Regions from separate parts of the Homo sapiens genome. Here region 1 is linked to region 2. Evidence: fine-mapped expression QTL. A gene starts in region 2. The other region holds a variant in brackets. All regions are shown on one strand. Distances are between the middles of the regions.

Region 1 (5,360 bases), 110 kb after region 2:
ATGCATGTTCCTGGAGCACATAGGCCCCCAAAGCTGGGCGTATGTCGCCTCTGGCACATGTGGCCACAGGAGCCTAGATTTCCCTGGCTTTGAACTGGTATTCTGGGGAAGGCCAGACACAGGAAGGGCAGAGGGAGAGGCACTGGGAAGAGAGGGTCCTTGCCTTTAGGGGAAGAGAATCAAGGCCTGGGTTTGTGAGCTGTAGGGCAGGGAGAAGGGAGCCCTGAGCTGGCATGGGCTGCCTGGCACGGGCAGCCTGGTATGGGTCAGGGCCAACAGGCTGCCACCAGCAGGCTATGGTGGCCTCACCATGTGCAGCTTCTCCTGGGAACAGGGAGTGTGCTTGAAGGACTGTGGGGTTGCTTCCCAAGGAATCAAGTGGCTGGATGCGGCCCCAGATGTGATCCATGCTGTGCTTGTGTACCTGGAGATGCGAGAGAAGGCCCAGAGGCAGTTGAGAGCTGGGTTGAGCTCACACAGTGCTGCAGGCCCCAGCGGGTTCAGAAAGAAGATGTTCTGCTTCCAGCCCGGGCCCCTCCCCTCCACAGTGGCTCAGGGCTTTCCCCAGCCCCAGACCTCCCTGGGGAGCACCTGGACCTGGTGACACGACCCCAGGCTGTGCTCAGCTCTGGCTCTGCTGCTCACGAGGGTGGGACAGACATGACACAATGGGCGCCACCGGTCCTGGCTGCAGCAGATGGGGCCCTACTTGTCTCCTCCTTTACTGACTCATGTGGGCTGGGCCTTTTACAATCCAGGGCATTTAGGAAAAGCTGCTATAGGATACGAAGGTCCTGAGAAGTCCTGCAAGTAAGAGCCTGGCCAGAGCTGGGGCCCTGCTGTGTGTGGCCCTGAAGCCGGGAGCCGGGCTGCTCTGCTGAAGATGGGAGGCGGGAGCTCCCTGCCGGTCACAGAGCCCCGACTGTGTGCGCACGTGCGTATGAAAGAGGGGATAAAGGGCGATTTGTTGGATTAGAGGCTGAAATGCCAAATGTAAGCTAGAAGGGGTTTATCTACCTTTTAATGTAATTGTGAGACAAGCAATGAAATGTTTACTGTTTGCAGGCTGAGCCAGGAATAAAAACCTGATCAAATACAAATGCCTGCTTCCTCTGCACTTCTGCTCTGCCCATGAAGATGACTGGTAGGTCCATCTCAGGCTGCCTCCTGAGGCAGAGCCTGGAAACCCTACCTGCTGGTTGCCTTCCAATGAGTCAGCAAACCCGCTCTAAGCTCCTGTATGTGGGGCCCTGTGCTGGTCAGCGGCTGGAGGAGGCGAGGGGAGGGTGAGACCCTCCCCGGGGACACCACTAACACCTAATGAGACCCTGCAGGGACCGCACCCCCTGGGGAGGGTCTTGGGCTCACCAGCACTGCCTTGTCCAACTCAGTGTATTGTTAGAGTGGGGGCACCTCTCTTTGGAGGGTTTGCTTTTTGGAGGCCACAGAAATTGGGGGAGGCTGCAGTGGAAGTCCAGGGTCCAGAGGGTCAGACGAGGAGAAGGGATTCTGGAGTGGCCTCCATAGGAAGGGCCCTGGGAGGAAGCTGGTCCGTGTGCAGGTGTGTTACTCACTGCTGCAGAAGCAACTTGCTGAAGGGGTTGGCCCCTGACGCGGAGGTTTCGGAGCTCTAGAAGGCCCAGCACCTGCAGCCTGGGGGCTCACTGCCCAGCAGCCATTTTAAAAGTTCATGGACAGCTTCATTCCAAACCTCAAGAGAAACACAAGCCAAGTGCCAGCGGCACTGGCTTCTGGCCTTTGGAAGGTGGTCCTAGTGCGTTAATGGAGAACTGGGGCCTCCCACAGGTTGAAGTTGTGCTGATACCTACCCAGAAGGCAAGGATTGGGAGCTCCTCGGGTTGGGAGAGGTGTGGACAGTGCCCCACTCCCTCTGCAAGCGCCCCTAGAGGGCTGCTTCAAGAACAGTCTGGCCCCACAGAGAGGTGTGTCTGGCTAGGTGTGAGTGTACCTTAGGAGAGGTTTCTAATCCTTCATGCCTGTCTGCCAAGGGTGCCTCAGAGCACCTGGTTTGTCCCCATCAGACTCTCTGAGTGTTCAGGAAGTGGAGTGGAGGGCTTGGTTGAGTAGAGGGCTTGGTGGAGTGGGGAGCTTAATGGAGTGGAGGGCTTGGTGCAGGCCCCCATTGAATTCCCAGTCAGGGCTAACCAGGCATTCCCCGAGGCAGGAAGGCACTGGTGCCAGCAGCCAGGCTGTGGCTGGAGGAGGCTCTGCCCGCAGGGAAGCGGGGAGGCCAGCCCGGGGCTGGCTCAGCTCTCAGTCCAGCCCGCTCTCTGGAGCTCCAGATAGGCAGCCCAGGAGCTCTCAAGGGACCATGGATGAGCCTCCTGGGTGTCCCTCTTGCTCCTGTGCTGAGATTTCTCTCCCAGCTTCTCCCTGTCTGGGCAGCTTGCTCCCAGCCTGCTTGCTGGCACAGTGTCTATGACAGGTACCACGCCAGGTCCTGGGCTGCAGCATTGGACAGGACAGAGGTGGCCTTCGTCCTCTTGGGGAATACTGGTGAACACACATTTTCCTGAAGAGCACCAGTCCTGAGAGGTACTCTGGTGGATAAAAAAGTTTTACCATCAAAGAAGTGTAAGAAATGCCACTCACTGAACGTCCTGTGCAGACTAGTGTTCCTCCAGAAGAATTTCGAAGTCCCAACTCCTGGTACTTATAAATAGGACCTTTCTTGGAAATAAGGTTTTTGCAAATGTAATTAAATAAATGATCTGCAGATGAGATCATTCTGGATTGGGGGGGCACAAATCCAATTAGTGGTGTCAGAAGAGGAATGAGAGGGAGATTGACAAGTGTCAGAGAGGGCCTCCCTCCCTTAGAGCTTTCAGAGGGAGCGTGGACCTGTGGACGCCTTGATCTTGGACTTCTTGGCTCCAGAACTGCGAGAGGATGAATTGCTGTTGTAAGCCACCTGGCGTGTGGCACTTTGTTGCTGCAGCCCCAGGAAACAGATTTACCAGATGTCCTTGCTGGAGATTGACAGAGTATTAAAGATACAGAAGATGCTGACAAGTCCCGCCGTAAGGTTTAGACCAGGTTAAACCCAGGTGCTGGAGACTGATATCCCATACCCCGAGCCGAAGCAGAGCCTGAGACAATGGCTTGTGTGTAGATAGTTAATTTGGGGGATATGTTCCCGGGAAGCAGGAGTGCACCCTCAGGAAAGGTGAAGAGGGGTGGAGGGAGACCATGGTGGGTGACTGGAGACCCTCTGGGGCAGCGTGTAGAACATGCATCAGAATTGCCCACTGGAGTCGCTGTGGATTTTAACTCCCCTGCACTTCCTAGGGTGGATATGCACCAGATGGCTGAGTGGCTTCCTGGGTATC[C/T]GGGGTATCCCAGAGGCAAAAGCAGAGAAAGCCACGTGGATTGCCACAGAGGCACTGCCAGCACCTCCTTCTGGTTTCTCCTGCAACTGCTGGAGCAAAAGGATGAGCTGAGATGTGGTGCAGGGCGCTGTCCAGCATATCAGGTTGCCCATACGCCTTGAAGCCTGTAACACCTTCTTTTGGTCATCCCTGGGCATCCACAGGACATAGGTTCCAGGACCTGCTTTGGTTCCCCAAATCCAAGGATGCTCAAATCTGTGATGTAAAATGGCTTGCATTTGCACATAGCCTACACACATCTTGTCAAGTGCTTTAAATCATCTCTAGATTACTTATGATACCTAATACAATGCAAATGCTACGTTCAAAGTATTACGTGGTATTTTAAAAATTGTATTATTTTTAATTTTTGTATTGCTTTTATTGATTTTTCCCAAAGATTTTTGATATTTTTGAATCTGCAGATGCAGAATGCATGGGCGTGGAGGGCGGACAGTATACACTGAAACCCTGATGCATGCGGTGGTCCATGCAGAGTTCCGCGGGGCCCTCTGGAAACACTGGCCCAGTGAATTGTGCATTGAATTGAAAACATGGGCTTCTCCATCACTCACTCATTCATCCAATCATTAATTCAGCAAGCTTTCTTCCAGAGGGCAAGCGGCCCTCTTGCTTGTCCTAGCCCCAGAGAGGAGCACAGTCTCGGGCAGGGCTCAGTGCACAAAAATACTTATGTAAAGGACTAGATAGCACATATTTTTGGCTTTTTGGGCCATATCGTCTCTATCAGTATTGTAGTCTGATGGTAGCCATAGTCAATAAGTAAATGAATAGGCTTGGCTCTGTTTCAATTAAACTTTATTTGCCAAATGAGAGGTGAGTTGGATTTGGCCTTTGAGCCACAGTTTGCTGATCTGTGGTCAGAACCCATGGAGATATTAATACACAGCCTGGGTTTCAGAAAGCCCAGAAGATGGTGCCATTAACACTGTTCAGGGAAATCATGGAAGACTTCATGGAAAAGGGGTAGGTCTTGAAGGATTTGCAGGAGTTTGCAGGATAGAAAAGTAGGGAAAGGCATTCCAGACAGAGGTGACTGTGCCCAGGAGAGCACCCTGGATGGCTCTGAGGAATGAGACTTTACAGCAACTGGAAAAAAGAAAGTTGAATTTAGTAAGAGGAAAGTTACATTCATAATTAATGAAAATTGAGGGATGATTCTCCAGGAAGTGTTTTCAAATGAGACAAGCTATGGGCAGTTTTAGAAGCAGAGATGGGTGGGAGGAGAAGACAACTCCTTCTTTTTTCCTTTCTTTTTTTCCAGGCTGGAGTGTAGCGGCGCCATCTCGGCTCACTGCAACCTCCACCTCCCAGGTTCAAGAGACTCTCATGCCTCAGCCTCCTGAGTAGCTGAGATTATAAGCATGTGCTACCATGCCTGGTGAATTTTTCTGTTTTTTGTAGAGACTGGGTTTCACCATGTTGGCCAGGCTGGTCTCGAACTCCTGGCCTCAAGTGATTCACCTGCTTTGGCCTCCCAAAGTGCCAGGATTATAGGCATGAGCCACTGTGCCCGGCCAGACTCCTTCTTTCTTGCTGAGGCTCTCTCCCCTGGGACCATCCTCTGCAGCACTCAGGCCTCAGATGAACTTGGAGGCTGGTCCAGGGGTCTGCCCAGGACTAGGGGCAGGTGGAGCTCAGATCCCTGACTCTGCATCACAGAGCTCACCACGCTGCCTGCCACGGCCACCCCGATGGGCACATGCCCCATCACCTTGGCAGGTTATGATTACTCAGGGAAGTGTTAGATAGAACCCTGCTGGGCTGCATGGAGCTAAAACAATCCAGGATCTGTGCCTCTGTGAGGCTGTGTGGGGCTGGTGGGAGGGTTTCCCTGGAGGCATCCACTGGGGGCCGGGGAGAGTTCTGCTGGGGCTGCCTTCCTGACTAGCTCCAGGGTTTCCAGCCTGTGCTGGGGGCAGCTGCTCAGGCTTTCTTTCACCTGTGTGG
Region 2 (5,360 bases):
CAGCGGGAGGCTCAGTGGGAGTAACTCTGGGTGGGACCCTGGGAGAATGTAGGTGTGTGTAGGTGTAGGTGTGTGTGTAGGTGTGTGTGCACGCGAGCACACTAGAGTGTGTAAGAGAGTGTGGGTTTTGAGGCAGACAGGCAGCGTGGGCCTGTTTTCGGCCACAGAGAAGTGGCCCCTCTGTGCCCCTGAGGGCTGGAGGTCCTGCCGGCTTTCCGGTACTCGGTTTTCTGGTGGCCTCTGGAACGCAGCCGTGGGAGCCCTGGGGTCCTCAAAGTGGCAGAGGGCGGGGAGAGCCTGATGGGACCAAGGGGGCTTCCTTCACTACCCAGCACCCATCAGAGGGCCGCAGCCAGCGAGCACGAGCAAGCGACCAGGCTGAGGTGTGGCTCTTTAGGGGCTGGGCGTGAATGGAGTTCTGGGAGGTGGTGGGAACAGCGATGCTGTCAAAATAATTGACAGGTTTGGGGGTAACCACTGCTGACTTTGAAGATGCTTTGGGATGCGAAGGTGGAAGATGGGCTGCGCCACAGGGCGGCGCCCTGCGCGAGTGAAGCCCGCTGCTTCCCTCCCTGGGTTAGCCTTCGCCGCCCCGGGCGCGAGCCGGGCGCGCGCCGGTACCGCGTGGGCGGCGGGTTACCTTGCTCCGGGCGCCCGGCACGCTGAGCGCCAGCTCGTGCAGCAGCTCCCGGGGTGGCTCCTTGAGGTACCACCACTGAATCTCCAGCGAATACGAGGTGGCTCCGCTGGCCCGGAACGCGCAGGGCATTTCGATGTCGTCTCCCTCCCGTACTGTCACATCTTTGGGGACTTCTGTGAATGCAGCTGGGGGTGGGGAGAGAGAGAGAGGCGTGACCAGCTGTAGGTCGGGGGCCTGGGGCAACCTAAAGCGAGGCAGTCGGTCTCTGGCTGGCTGGCCTTGTGCCCCCCACCCCGCAGCTGCTCCCTGGCGCACGGCCGGAGGGGCTAGCAAAGTTCGGGGAAGCGGCTGCAGGGCCGAGGCAGGGACCGGCCATCGGCTGCCTACTGCTTCCCTCCGGATGGGGCGGGGCGGCAGGGGCGACTCGTGCTTCTCCCCCGCCCCTGGCCGCACCGCCAGAGCCTGGCTGGGGCGCGCCTACTCCCGCTCCCCGCAGGCATCCTTTCCGCAGCCGGGGCCCCGGCGGGACTGGGAACGACTCGGGCGCGGCGCTGCTGCTGCGGCGACCCTTCGCCGCTCGCCTCTCCCTACCCCTCCGGGCCCAGGCTGCACAGCGGGATTGCTGGAGACCGCGAAGCTTCCCGGTTCGTTCTCTTTCTTCTTCTTCTCGGTGGCGGCCCCAGCAAAGACCCCCCCGAGTCCACAGCGGCAGCAAAGTTCCCGCGCTCACCGTCGGCCACGAAGAGCAGCAGGGCATGCAGCAGCAGAGGCGGCAGGTATCCGAGGGCACCGAGCCGGTTCCGCTGTTCCATCTCCCGCGGGGGGCGCGGTGGCGGCGGGGGCCCGGGAGCGGAGAGGCGGCGGCCGCGTGGGCTCGGATCGGCTCCGGCTCGGGCTAGGACGCCTCCGAGCCTGCCATGGCCCCGCGCGGCGCCCCCTCCCCTGGCCGCCGGCGGCCGCCAATCAGCCCCGCTCCCTCGCCGGCTTGCCCGGTGCGGCTCCGGCGGGGGGCGCTGCGCGGGGTGTGCAGGAGACGCGGTCCCACCGGGAGGCTGCTGGCGATCGGTCAGTGCCTCTCTCTGTCCGGTCGTCCACAGGACGGTGGGGATCCGCGGTTCAGTCTCTGCCCGGCGGGCCGGGCAGGGGCTGGGCCGCGCCGGGACCCATCCCTGGCCGAGGGAGTGCGTGCCACGGAGCCGCGAGCTTCTGCCTCCCTGTCTCCTTCTGGTTCTGCTCCCGATTGCCACCTCCTTCGGCTCCCGCAGCCGCCCCCGCCGGTTCCTCCGCGGCTCTTTCCGCAGGGCGAGTGGGCGCTCAGCCGCGGCGCGCAGACCTGGCGTCCGACCCAGCGCAGCGCGGGGAGAGCGGGTCCGGCGTGGCGGACCCGGAGCCGGAGAGAGGCGGGGAGAGGGGGAGGGGAGGGGAAGGGAGGGGGCGGTCAGTGGCTGGGCGCCAAGCCGCCTCCACCGCTGCATCGCCCCCGCCCTCCCCTCTCCTGCCACAGCCCGCCCCGCCCCCGCCCCAGAGCGCTCCCCCTCTCTCCTCGGGGGTCGCTCGGAGGGACCACCGTCTTTCTGGTTGGAGTACAGCCCCGCCCCGCACCCGCTTGGGTTGGGAGTCCTCCCACCCAAACTCTCCCTGGCTTCTTCCCAGTCTGCACGGCTCGAGACGGCCGCTCATCCCTGCTCCCCGTGTGTCCCTCGGTCCTCTCTGCAGCTCCCAGCCCTCAACTCCTTACCCCAGTTTGGGCAACCAGCTGCCCCGCTGTTTGGCCCAGGCCTGGGCCATGACGGATGGGTGGGCGCCCGGGGCCGCGAGAAGGGCGGAACGCTGTGCCCAGCCGGAGACTACGCTGGGTGGCGGCGGCAGCGCCGGGAGTCTGCAGTGCGCGAGGGAGAAGTGAGCGCACAGCGCCCAGCGAGCAGGTGCCTGCGGCGCGGAGAGCGCACACGCTAGCCAGCCCGCAGCGGCCGTGAGTGACGGCAGGGGCGGCGGGGGTGGGGTGGGGTGGGGAGCGCCGGGCACGACTCAGGGCCCGGGAGGTTTCCGGGAGGGGGCGGGGTTCCTGCCCCTGGATCGCGGGTCCCTGTGTCTCCACGCGCTCTTCGCCGGTCGTGGCCCCTTCTTTGCCCGGTGCAAAGCGAGATGCCGAGGCGGCAGGAAGCCGGAACCCATCCCCCGCCTGCTCTGGCGTACTCGGCATCCCGGTACCTCCCCCAGCCTTCACCCGGAGTCTGCTCCCTCCCCAGCCATCTGAGGGAGCGCGGTCTGGTCCCCGAAGGCAAATGCGGGGTGGACATGTGGTTCGGACGCAGCGCGTAGTCATAGTCATAGGGGCGAGTCCTAAGGCTCGCCTTGGGTCTCTCCTATCTCCTTCCCCCGGGAGTCCCCAGCTAGTGCGTTTCGGCACCTCTGCCCCTACCCCGGCCCCTACGCCTCAGCTCTGACCTCAGGTTGGGGTGGGGCAGCCCGGTGGATTCACGTGCCTGCTTCCCCGGCTACCAGCCTCCCGGAGGCACCGCCAGAGGATTCCCTGGGAGCCAAGGAGAAGGAAACCCAGAGGGAAAACACTCTCCAGCAGCCACCCTGGTCCAGGCGGCCAGCGCAGCACAGCTCAGAGGGGAGGAGCTGCAGGCCCTCTCCAAGGCTGTCCTCGCCAGCGGGTGCCCGGGGCCAGCCCTTCTTGCCTCCAGTGCCTGCCTTTCAGTTTCCTCGTCTATGGCCCAGGAGTCACTCCCACCCCCTGGCTCACTGTGGCTCATCTATCAAGCCCTTGTTTTCTAAGGTCTCCTGCTGGGGGCAAAGGGAAGAAGGGGGTCCTATAGGACTTTCCTCCTTTCCCTCAAGTTCCTCTCTAGGGGCTCCACAGAGGCAGTTGCCAGCTCCTTCTGTCATGGCAGGAGCTTTTCCTAGGAAATCCCATGTGCCCTTAGAAACCACTTTGGACCCCCGAATGTAAGACCCTGCCAGGCCCCATTGCTGTCCTCAGCTTCTGAAGGGAGAGGGCAGACTTGCACCGCTCTATGCAGATTCAGGACCACAGCGGGGTTCCAGGAAAGCAGGCTCATTTGGGGACTGATTCCAAGCAGGGTTCTGAAGAAAGAGCTAGCCCACTGCGCAGTGGCCCACCTGGAGAGGTAGCAGTCTCCTTTCCTGATGCCAGATCCAAGCAGAGGCTAATGCTGGAGACCAGCGATGCCCGTGGGAGAATCCCTGTAGCTAGAGGGAATTATCTGGAAGTAATTTATCCCTGTACCGCCTTGTGGGGTTGGGTGTTTCTTGCCCACTGCATGAGTTGGTATTACTCTAAGAGCGACAGATACATGTTTTCACATGCTTTCCATGTACTAGACACTTTCTAGGCATCAGTTCTCAACATGACAAAGAGATCCTTCTCAGGGAAATCAGATCCCTCTTCCACTGCTGAAAAACCCCACAGTGGCTCCCATTTCACTTGGCATAAACACCAGTGGCCTTGCAGTGGCTGCCAAGGTCAAACCATCTGCCTTTCTGCTTCCTGCTCACCCTTTTCCTTCATCTTCTCATCTTTTCTGTCTTCTCCATAGCTCACACTCCCCTAGCCACACTGTTCTCCTTCCTACAATGCAGCACACTGGGCATGCTTCTACCCCAGGGCCCTTGCACCAGCCGCACCATCTGGTTGACATGCTTCTCCCACAGATACTTGCTTGGCTAACTCCGTTGTGCTCTGGTTTTTGTCAAGCAGTCACCTTCTCCATGAGGCCCACCTGGGCCACCATATTTAACACTGCAGTCTACACTGCCTCTCCTCCCACCACCCAGCACTCCCAGGCCCTCACTCTGCTTCCTTTATTTTTTCCATTTCGCCAGCCATCTTCCAACACATGGGACCACATCCTTATTTATTGAGTGTCTTGTTGCAGGTCTCTAAGACTGTGCCTGCCTTGTTCACTGATGTATCTCTAGCGCCTACAACAGGGTCGGGCACAGAGTAGGAGCTCAGTAAATACTTGTGGAATGAATGAATGAGCTCATTTTACCTCAATCACAACTCCAGGGGTAGACATGGTGATTTCACTCCATTTTATGGTTGAAGCTCAGAAGCTTACGGAACTTGCCCAAGGTCACATAGTTAGTAAGTGGCTGAGTGACGCATCAACCCAAAGCCTGTCTTACTCTGGGGTCCTGGATCTTAACCAAAACACTAAGCTCTTCCCTCCTCCAGGTGAGCCCCTGGTCCTGATGCCTCGAGTTGGTGTGGAGAGCAAGGCCCTACCCTTGACTGATGGGAGCAAGGAGCAGCCTGAGCTAGACTTGTAGTCTCTTTCCTGTCTGTTCAGCTTGGTCTATCTGTTTTCTGCCCTGCCTTGTAGACTGTGATGAGAGCAGCTGACCCACCTTCACTATGGTTTTTTTTTTTTTTTTTTTTGACACGGTCTTTTTCTGTTGTCCAGGCTGGAGTGCAGTGGCACGATCTTAGCTCACTGCACCTCAACGTCCTGAGCTCAAGCACCTCAGCCTCCAGAGTTATCATGCTGACACCAGGAGGATTAGCCCACCATGCCTTGCTAATATATATATATTTTTTTTGTAGAGATGGGGTGTTGCTATGTTGCCTAGGCTGGTCTTGAACCCCTGGGCTCAAGCGATCCTTCTGCCTCAGCCTTCCAAGTAGCTAGGACTACAGGCATGCACCATCACACTTGGCTAATTTTGTGCTTAAAATTTTTGTAGAGGT

The links.
Region 1: its variant is fine-mapped to the expression of VSTM2B-DT in cerebral cortex (GTEx, PIP 0.95).

Annotation. Positions count from the first base shown.
Region 1 is chr19:29,413,799-29,419,158 of GRCh38, reverse strand. All of the region lies in intron 2 of VSTM2B-DT (VSTM2B divergent transcript), which reads left to right. Among named protein-coding and RNA genes, the nearest start is that of VSTM2B-DT, 110 kb to the left of the region's middle. RefSeq lists an enhancer at 1,259-1,992 and a silencer at 3,303-3,597. The variant C/T (reference allele first, on the strand shown) is at 3,351.
Region 2 is chr19:29,522,676-29,528,035 of GRCh38, reverse strand. It overlaps VSTM2B-DT (VSTM2B divergent transcript), which reads left to right and starts at 2,286. Exons shown (of 10, transcript NR_040029.2): 1 at 2,286-2,612. It overlaps VSTM2B (V-set and transmembrane domain containing 2B), which reads right to left and starts at 2,042. Exons shown (of 5, transcript NM_001146339.2): 1 at 1,371-2,042; 2 at 641-825. The coding sequence starts at 1,452. All of the region lies in intron 1 of LOC124904683 (a long non-coding RNA gene), which reads left to right.